2 separate regions of the Homo sapiens genome follow, and region 1 is linked to region 2. The links come from fine-mapping of genetic effects on gene expression. A gene starts in region 2. The other region holds a variant in brackets. All regions are shown on one strand. Distances are between the middles of the regions.

The links. PIP is the estimated chance that this variant, and not a neighbour inherited with it, causes the effect.
Region 1: its variant is the best candidate, but not a certain one, in a credible set for the expression of PROSER1 in whole blood (INTERVAL, PIP 0.87).

What each region holds. Positions count from the first base shown.
Region 1 is chr13:39,055,793-39,061,169 of GRCh38, reverse strand. All of the region lies in intron 1 of LOC105370169 (a long non-coding RNA gene), which reads right to left. Among named protein-coding and RNA genes, the nearest start is that of NHLRC3, 20 kb to the right of the region's middle. The variant AG/G (reference allele first, on the strand shown) is at 2,887.
Region 2 is chr13:39,035,691-39,041,067 of GRCh38, reverse strand. It overlaps PROSER1 (proline and serine rich 1), which reads left to right and starts at 2,979. Exons shown (of 13, transcript NM_025138.5): 1 at 2,979-3,870. The coding sequence starts at 3,826. It overlaps NHLRC3 (NHL repeat containing 3), which reads right to left and starts at 2,612. Exons shown (of 7, transcript NM_001012754.4): 1 at 2,345-2,612; 2 at 1,780-1,932; 3 at 1,357-1,504. The coding sequence starts at 2,428. RefSeq lists a silencer at 3,269-3,498 and an enhancer at 4,641-4,750.

The DNA of each region.
Region 1 (5,377 bases), 20 kb before region 2:
AAAACATATTTGAGGATATAGTCCACAGAAATTTCCCCAATCTCACTAGAGAGGTAGACATGCAAATTCCAGAAATCCAGAGAACACCTGCAAGATATTATACAAGACAACCATCCCAAAGACACACAGTCATCAGATTCTCCAAAGTCAACAGGAAAAAAAAAATCATAAAGGTGGCTAGGGAAAAAGGCCAAGTCACTTACAAAGGGAACCCCATCAGGCTAACAGCAGAGTTCTCAGCAGAAACTTTACAAGCCAGGAGAGACTGGGGATGTATATTTAGCATCCTTAAAGAAAAGAAATTCCAACCAAGAATTTTATATCCTGCCAAATTATGATTCACATGCAAAGGAGAAATGAAATCCTTTTCAAACATGTAAAGACTAAGGGAATTCATTACCACCAGACCTGCCTTACAAGAGGTACTTAAGGAGAGAGTTCTAAATGTGGAAAGGAAAGAACAATATCTGATACCACAAAAACACACTTAAGTACATACACAACAGATCCTACAAAGCAATTACATAATTGAGTCTACAAAACAACCAATTAATAACAAAATGACAGGATCAAATCCTTACATATCAACATTAACCTTGAACATAAATAGTCTAAACGCCCCACTTAAACGGCACAGACTGTCAAGACCCAACCGTCTATCTTCAAGAGACCCATCCCACGTGTAAAAACACCCATAGTCTCAAAATAAAGAAATGGAGAAAAATCTATCATGCAAACAGAAAGCAAAAAAGAGCAGGGTAACTATTATTACATAAGACAAAACAAGCTTTAAACCAACATAGTCAAAAAGGACAAAGAAGGGCATTATATAATGATAAAAGGTTCAATTCAGCAAAACATAACTATCCTAAATACATATGCATCCAACACTGGAGAAGTCATATTGATAAAACAAGCACTTGTAGAATGGCAAAAAGACTCAGGGCTGGGCGTGGTGGCTTATGCCTGTAATTCCAGCACTTTGGGAGGCAGAGGCAGGCGCATCACCTGAGGTTGGGAGTTCGAGACCAGCCTGACCAACAAGGGGAAACCCTGTCTCTGCTAAAAATACAAAATTAGCCTGGTGTGGTGACACCTGGGCAACAAGAGTGAAACTCCGTCTCAAAAAAAAAAAAAAAAAAAAAAGCCACATAACAATATTGGAGGACCTCACCCCACTGACAGTGTTACACTATCAAGGCAAAAAACTAACAAATACATTCTGGACTTAAACCTGACACATGACCAATTGTACCTAATAGACATGTACAAAATACTACACCCAACAACCACAGAATATACATTCTTCCCAACTGCACAGGAAACACACTCTTAAGATTAACCATATTTGGTTATAAAGCAAGTCTCAGTACCTTTTAAAAAATTAAAATCATACCAACCATACTCTCCAATGACCGTGCAATAAAAATATAAATCAATACCAAGAAGCCCTCTTAAAACCACATAATACATGGAAATTAAACGACTTACTCCTGAATGACTTTTGGGTAAATAATAAAATTAAGGCAGAAATAAAAAATTTCTCAAAAATTAATAAAAACAGAGACACAACATACCAAAATCTCTGGGATGCAATGAAAGCAGTGATAAGAGAAAAGTTTACAGTACAAAATACCTATATCAAGAAGTTAGAAAGATATCAAATTAATAATCAAACATTGCCCCCAGAAGAACTAGAAAAACAGGAACCTCAATGCTAGCAGAAGAAAACTAAAATCAGAGCAGAACTGAATGAAGTTGAGATGCAAAAATACACACAAAAGATCAATGAAACCAAAAGTTAGTTTTTTGAAAGGATAAACAAGATTGATACACTGCTGTCTAGATTAATAAAAAGAGTAACAATACAAATAAGTAGAATCAGAAAAGACAAAGATGACATTACCACTGATCCCACAGAAATACAAAAGATCCTCAGAGACTAACTACTAAAACATCTCCATGTACTCAAACTAGAAAATCTAGAAGACAGCCTGTGCAACACAGTGAGAACCCATCTTAACAAAATATTAAAAAGTTAGCCTGGCATGGTGGCATGCACCTATAATCCCAGCTACTGAGGAGGCCAAGGCAGGAGAATCACTTGAACCTAGGAGGCGGAGGTTGCGGTGACCCAAGATCGCGCCGCTGCACTCTAGTCTGAGTGACAGAATGAGGTTCTGTTTCAAAATAAATAAATAAATAACTGAAGGAAAAGGAAGGAGGGTAGGGGGGAAGGGAAGGAAAGAAGGAGAGAGAGAAAGAAAGAGAGAAAGAGAGAGAGAGAGAGAAAGAAAGAGAAATAGAGAAAGGAAAGGAAGAAAGGAAAAGAAAACAAAATCTGGAAGCAATGGAAAAATTTCTGGAAACACACAACTTCCCAAGATTGAACGAATAAACTGAAACCCTGAGAAGACCAATAATGAGTGCTAAAATTGAATTAGTAATAAAAATCCTACCAACCAAAAAAAGTCCTGGACCAGATGGATTCACAGCTGAATAATATCAGACGTACAAGGATGAGCTGGTATCAATCCTACTGAAACTATTCCAAAAAAAATCAAGGAGGAAGGACTCTTCCCTAATTCATTTTACAAAACCAGCATCATCTTGATGCCAAAAATCTGGCAGAGACACAATGAAAAAAGAAAACTGCAGGCCAATATCCCTGATGAACACAGATGCAACAGCCCTCAACAAAATACTAACAAACCAAATCCAGCAGCACATCAAAAAGTTAATTCACCATGATCAACCAGACTTTATTTATGGGATGCAAGGATAGTTCAACACACACAAGTAAATAAATGTGATTCACCACATAAACAGGATTAAAAACAAAAACTATGTGATCATCTCCATAGACCAAAAAAAAAAAAAAAAAAA[AG/G]CCTTCAATAAAATCCAACATCCCTTCACAATAAAAGCCTTCAACAAACTAGGCACTGAAAGAACATACCTCAAAATAATAAGAGCCAGCTATGACAAACTCATGGCCAACATCATACTTAATGGGCAAATGTTGGAAGCATTTTGCCTAAGAATTGGAATAAGACAAGAATGTCCACTCTCACCACTCCTATTCAACCCAGTACTGGGAGTCCTAGCCAGAGAAATCAGGCAAGAGAAAGAAATAAAAGTCACAGAAATAGGAAATAAAAGAAGCCAAACTATCTCTCTTCCCTGATGATATGATTCTATACTGAGAAAATGCCAAAGCCTCCACCAAAGCCTCTAAGAATTGATAAACAATTTCAGTGAAGTTTCATTATACAAAATCTGTGTACAAAAATTAGTAGCATTTCTATACACCAATAATGTTCAAGCTAAGAGCCAAATCAAGAACACAATCCTATTTACAATAGCCTCAAAAAGAATACAATACCTAGGAATGCATCTAACCAAGGAGGTGAGAGACCACTAGAAGAACAACAAGTGCACTGAAATAAATCAGTAATGACACAAACAAATGGAAAAACATTCCATACTCGAGGATGGGAAGAATCAACATCATTAAAATGGCCATATTGCCCAAAGCAATGTATAGATTCAACACCATTCCTATTAGAGCACCAAGATCATTTTTCACAGAATTGGAAAAAACTATTCTAAAATTCATATGGAACCAAAAAACAGCCTGAATAGCCAACACAATCCTAAGCAAAAAGTACAAAGTGGGGGGGCATCACATTACCTGACTTCAAACAATATTATAAGGCTACAATAACCAAAACAGCACGGTACTGTTATAAAAATAGACACATAGACCAATGGAACAGAGTAGGAAACCCAGAAATAAAGCTGCACACCTGTGACCATATGATCTTTGACAAAGTCAACAAAATAAGCAATGAAGAAAGGACTCTCTACTCAATAAATGATGCTGGTATAACTGGCTACCCATATAGAGAAGAATGAAAGTAGACCCCTATCTATCACCATATGTAAAAATTAACTCAAGATGCATTAAGGACTTAAATATAAGACCTCAAACCATAACATTTCTTGAGGAAAACCTAGGAAATACCCTTCTCAATACTGGCCTTGACAAAGAATTTACAGTTGTCTTCATAAACAATTGCAACAAAAACAAAAATTGACAAGTAGGACCTAATTAAACTAAAGAGCTTTTGCAAAGCAAAAGAAACTATCAACAGAGTAAACAGACAACCTACAGAATGGGAGAAAACACTCAAACTATGCACCTGAAAATAGCCTAATGTCCACAATCTATAAGGAACTAAATCAATAAGCAAAAAACAAATAGCCCTGTTAAAAAGTGGGCAAAGGATATGAACAGACACTTCTCAAAAGAAGACATACAAGTGGCCAACAAACAAATGGAAAAATGCTCATCATCACTAATCATTAGATAAATGCAAATCAATCTCACACACGTCAGAATAGCTTTTGTTAAACCGTCAAAAATAACAAATGCTGGTGGGGTTGCAGAGAAAAGGGAACACTAATACACTGTTGGTGGGAATATATTAGTTCATCCACTGTGGAGAGCAGTTGGAAGACTTCTTTTTTGTTTTGTTTTGTTTTTTTAGACAGAGTCTCGCTCTGTTGCCAGGCTGGAGTGCATCGGCGCGGTCTTGGCTCACTGCAACCTCCGACTCCCTAGTTCAAGTGATTCTCCTGCCTCAGCCTCCCAAGTAGCTGGGATTACAGGAATGCACCACCACGCCTAGCTAATTTTTTTTTTTTTTGTATGGAAGACTTCTTATGGAACTAAGAGCTGAACTAGCATTTGACCCAGCAATCCTATTACTGGGTATATAACCTAAGAAAAATAAATCATTCTACCAAAAAGGCACATGCATCCATGTTCACTGCAGCACTATTCACAATAGCAAAGACATGGGATCAACCTAGATACCCTTCAATGTTGGACTGGATAAAGAAAACATGGTACACATACACCAAGGAATACTATGCAGCCATAAAAAAGAGTGAAGTCATGCTGTTTGCAGCAATATGGATGCAGCTTGAGGCCAGTATCCTAAGTGAGAGAATACAGAAAGAGAAAACCAAATACCACATGTTCTCACAAGTCGGAGCTAAACAATGGGTACACACAGACATAAAGATGGGAACAACAGACACTGAAGAATATAAGAGGGAGGGGGTTGGGAGAGGGAGAGGGCTGAAAAAGTACATATTAGGTATTACCCTTACATCCTGGATGACAGGTTCAATTATACTCCAAACATTAGCATCATGCAATATACCTTTGTAACAAATCTGTATATGTAGCCCCCCAGAATCTAAAAGTTGAAAATATATATAAACAAGTAAAATAAAAGGCATGATTTTGATACATAATTGCACTAATCTATTTAATAATATAGTCCATTAAAAATCACTTTTATTGCTA
Region 2 (5,377 bases):
TTTATTTCTGGGAATCAAGGAAGTCTTATTTTTAAAAATCACATGAATAAAATGAACTCAAAGAAATGGTCTTTAACAGTGGATCTTCAGGAAAAAAGTGAAAATAGACTCTCATTATAGTATTAACAATTCACTCAGTGATAATCTATAGACTTTTTTTGGTTGAACCAGATTCATACTATGTAAAACACAGCATGAAATAAATGGGCCATCAGCTGAGGCCCAGAAATCTTATGGGTTCTGAGAACAGCTGTGATAATGGCACTACTTACAGAAACTGAGAACTCATTATCTCTAAAAAATGGTATCTGAATCAGCCAGGACTGTAGAACCAGGATGTCTCTCAATTCAAGAACATAACTGGGCCAAGGAATACTAGAAATAATGTCTTTATAATCCCATTTCTTCCTGAATTCCTAGGGTAATGCCAGGATATCTCAGGTATTGCCTTGTCTTAAGCTACAGCCACAGGTGAATTGTTTCTCTGAAAACTTTCTCCATAGCTGCACATTCAGTTGTGCTCACTTCATTTTTCAGCTTTTTCTACTAAAAATATTTGATGGCAGGAAGATTTCAGACATGCTTCAGTCAGTAGAATTTCAAAAACATTAACAACAGTTTCTGCAATCTTTGCACTTTGAGCAACAAAGCAGTTACGATTTCACAATCTTTTATGAAAGAAAACTGGAAAAGGAAAATAAGAGTCAAGGATTCCAGTCATTGCTTTCAGAGACTGCCACTTTATTTGGCTTCAGTTTAGAGTTATTTAATCTGAGAAGAGCAACTGATGCTTTAAAGAGGAAAAGACCCTAGACAAGTTCAAGGAAAGATCATATTAACAGGCTCCTTGTCAAATTTCTTTCTTTTTTTTTTTTTTTTTGAGACAGAGTGTCGCTGTGTCACCCAGGCTGGAGTGCAGTGGCGCGATCTCGGCTCACTGCAAGCTCCGCCTCCCGGGTTCACGCCATTCTCCTGCCTCAGCCTCCCCAGTAGCTGCGACTAAAGGCGCCCGCCACCACGCCTGGCTGATTTTTTTTTTTTTTTTTTGTATTTTTAGTGGAGACGGGGGTTTCACCGTGTTGGCCAGGATCGTCTCGATCTCCTGACCTCGTGATCCGCCCGCCTCGGCCTCCCAAAGTGCTGGGATTACAGGCGTGAGCCACGGCGTCCAGCCCTTGTTAAATTTCTTAATTCCACAGAAGTACAAAATAAAGTTTGTTAAAAACATGTGATTTCATGAATCGTTAAAGAAATTACAATTAGATTCAGCAACTCTGATTTTAAACAATACAAACAAGGACATGTGCAAAGATGTGATTTCCAGTAAGATAATTTAATAGATATTACTATACATACCACTTCCTACATCCGTGATCCAGACGGATTGTTCATATAGAGTACTGGCTGCAAATATACCATGAGGTGTGTCAACTGTATAATTCCAGGCTCGTAGGAAATATCCATCCTCTGTGAACACTAATATCTTTGGGATGTTATCCCCTCTCTGAAGGTATACAAAAAATAACTTCTTAGGATCAGCTTAAAGGAAAGGTAATCTGTATCTTGGCGAAGAAAAAAAATAACTGAGAATTTTACTACAAAAACCACTTTCAAAATCTAACATATCTTTCACATTCGAAACCAAAATACTTGAGACCAACTCAAAAATAAATTGCACAATTAGCATGATATAAACGCATATGGTCAGTTACTACAGCAAGACAGGAAGGCTGTTACTTCCTTTGTGTTCATAATTTTTTTAAATCTCTATTTACTTACTTGACCTATGTAAACCAATCCATTGAGGGAGTCAACTGCAACACAAAATGTTGTTCCGGTAAAATATTCTGGGTGCTTAGGCCAACCCACATCCAGCCGGTAAAGAATTTTCTCAGTTCTCCAGGAAACTGCAAAAGTAAAGTTCCTCAAAACCTTAAACAAAATCAGACAATTCAGATTTAGTTTACCGTCTAGGTAAGAACAAAAAAAGGGCGGGGGGGCCGGGTAACAGGGCTTATTTTTAAGCATGCCTTGACAACTAGAAGTTTGCTGGACTGAAATAATTCCAAAGAAATGAGCTTAGATGCCTAAAGACCAACACGACCACAATACAAGTCTGCAAATTATTTGAGGATGTAGTAAGAGTTGGGAAAGAGGAAAATGGCGATGTAACATACACAAATTTTTAAACTCAAAGGGTCAAGGCAGTTTGGACCCAGGTGCAGGCTTTGAGACAAGCTACTGAGGGAACCAGGGCCTGCCACCTCCATGCCACGACCGTGGCGACGCCTCCCAACAGGGCTACCCGCACACCCGACAGTCATTTCCTCACTACCCAACTCACTGGAGAGCCACAAAAACGCGAATGCAAAACCAAAAATGCAAGAAAGAAGCCAGCACCGGCTACGCAGACCCAGAATCTCGCCATGACCAGACGGGAAGCCAGGAGAGGGAGGGTCCGCAGGTGTCTGGGGGAGGACCTGACAGCCTCAGGCTGCAACGGTTTGCAGCGGCACAGAGGGTCTGCCCGGGGCCCGAAGACCCTATCTCCGGTTTCCCCTCCCTGGATGCACGAGCTTTGAGTACGAAAGGGAACAGAGACCAGGGCGAATGAAAATCACAGAAGACCAGTTCCGGACTTCGTGTGCATTTCGGGGTCCCCGCCCTCATGTCAGGTGCTTCGGGCTGACCCAGTGACCACCCTTTCCCGCCCTCAGGGCAGTCCGCGCCGCTGACTTTCAGTGGCCACCAAAGTATGGGCGCCCGTAGATATGCCTTAATCGCTCGCCATTTATTCTTTTTAATCCAGAGGGCAAAATCAAAACATCGCACACTCAGACACGAGGTATGGTGGGGATGACATTCAAAATAATGACCGCTAGGCTTCGGGAAGGATTTTTGCCACATCCTATTCCTACCATCCAGGCATCCGCTATGGATGCCTATATTCCCACACCAGGACCCCACCTCTGGCTTTCAGGAAAGAGGGGCCCAAGCTGGCGGCGCAGTGTTGAGTTTACTTGGGCGCGACTGGCTTTATTGTAGGTCCCCATGAGCTGGTGGGGGCTGTAGGGGTAACCAGGCAGGGCGTCTGGCGCTGTTGGGGCTGCGTTTTTCCGGAGTCCCCCTATGCGAGGCCGTGCCCCTCTTCGCCCGGCTCCTGGTGCTCCCCAGCCGCCGGCCCGCTCCCGGAAGCTGCAGCAGCTGGTAACAAAGAGCCTGCCGGGCCGCCTGCTGCCGGGGCCGAGGTATCCAGGAGTCGGGCGGAGCGGCTGGGGATGAGCGCGAGCCGGACCATGCGTCCGGGTTCGCGGCGGTGAGGGTCGCGGCCGGCGGCCGAGGCGCAGGTGCGGGTCGAGAGACCGGCGCCTCCCTCCCCGCCGCCCGTGGACTCTGAGCGCAGGTGTTTCTACTCTGCCGGCCGCTCCACCTGGGAAAGCGCCTTCAAGAGCTACCTCTGGCGGCACCTGGCCCTCAGCTGCAGGGAAACCGCACTCAAACCTGCCGCCGAGCCCGGGTTTTTCTGCAAAACTCAGAGGACCTGGCTCTTGCCCGAGGTGCCCTGAACCATTGTGTGAATAAGCTGGGGAAGCCTGACTGGAGTGTTTTTTCTTTTTAATAAAAAGAGTTTTTCTGAATCTCAATTTTTAGAAATTTTTTTTGCGAAGTTTGCAATACTCTCTACCTCTTCGCATCCTCTCTTGCTCGTGGAGTCTTTTTCCTCCTCAGCTATAAATATTTTTTACTATCGGCGGAGCAGACCAGGGATGAACGTCTTTTAATTGCAAGTATAACTGTTAAAACCACGTCGGGATAGTAGTCAAGATGGATAAAAAGTCCTTTGAAATGGTGCTGGATGAAATTAGAAAGGTAATTAGACCGATTCCATGAATTATTTTATGAGATGAATTCTCGTGTTTTAGACTCTCTTTGAGGTACTGTATGGAGATTGTGCAGAATAAGGGTCCTAGGATTGCCAAATTGGTTTGAATTTTCACGTGTAATGGAGGAGTTTATATCTTGATACGTTTCCAGTACAAATAGAAATTAAGTTACGTTAACGCCAAATTTGAGACTCAGCACGGTGTCGTGGGAATTACATTTGTAAAGCCCTCGGTTCCAAAGCCGGCTTTACAAATCCGTAATAGCTCTGTACTTTTTGGGTAAGGGGTTTAATATTTTTGAGTTTATTGCCTCATCTTTCAGTAACACAAGAGTGACTGAAAACGAGAGGTAATACGCAGAAAGTTTCTTTTATGGTAGTTATTATGATGGGGTTTTCAAATCTAAGCATAAGGTAGAGTATATTTGTTGCGTTGGCCATGCAAAATTCGTGTCCTGATGGTAAGTGTGGCATTAAGTTTAAAGTCACGTTCTTAGGAATTGGCCGTCAATAACTTGAGCTTCAAAACTTTTTTCTCCTGCTTTCCAAGTTTTTGCTGCTTTTTGAGGCTGTTGTGTGGATCGCATTTCCCAGAGTGAACCAGACAGCAACAATTCTGGAAGGTAGTCTTGAGCCTAACAATATCTCAAGCACAAAAATACCGAGAAGTTACTTATTTTAAAATGTAAGGACTTGATGTACCATTGTTACATCAACACACGGTGCTTTCCTTCGGCCTTCCGGGCAATTATTCTTTCGTCAGCTGCATACCTTTACGACCCTTGACTGAAACGGAAGAAATTGTTGCCATGTGCTCTGGTGCTTATTTCAGTTTACAAAGCTATTATTAAAATTGTCTCTGGTCTTGCTGTTTTGCTTTGTTTTTATACAGCTTTTTTCTTTTTTCAAATTGACGTGTTTAAGTTTTCATATTTGATAATACTGAACATTCTTTTTTGAACAAGTTCTGCTTTTGCAAACCTAAGTGTCCAATTAATTTTTGAAATAAAATATTGGTTTGCTAATTATATGCCTAGAAATTTGTCACAATTTGTTCTTGGGCTGATTTTTAATTACTTTTCATGAGAAAATAATTGGTGAGTCCAAGTAGACCAGCAGATTTTTACTTTTGGAAGATACAGGGTCTCAGTGTGCATATTCTCTTCCTGGTGTCATAAAAACGTCACAGTAAATTCTAAAGAGGGGAATAGGAAATTTTCCAGATATGAAAGTGTTGTTCACATGAGATGGCAACTTAAGTCTGTATTTCTGGTCAGCAGTTAAAATATATCTTCTGCTGGCTTTGCCGAGTGATTAGACACATCAACATTGTCATGGTCTATTAAAATGGAATAAAATATTGGCATATCTAAATATGAGCATTACTACTGATTTTCTTAAAAATCGTTCTTTGTAAATGTAAGTCAGTTTAAACCAGGTCATCTCTTGAGTATCACAGTGAGTTTATATGATAGATAATACTGATTGTCACTA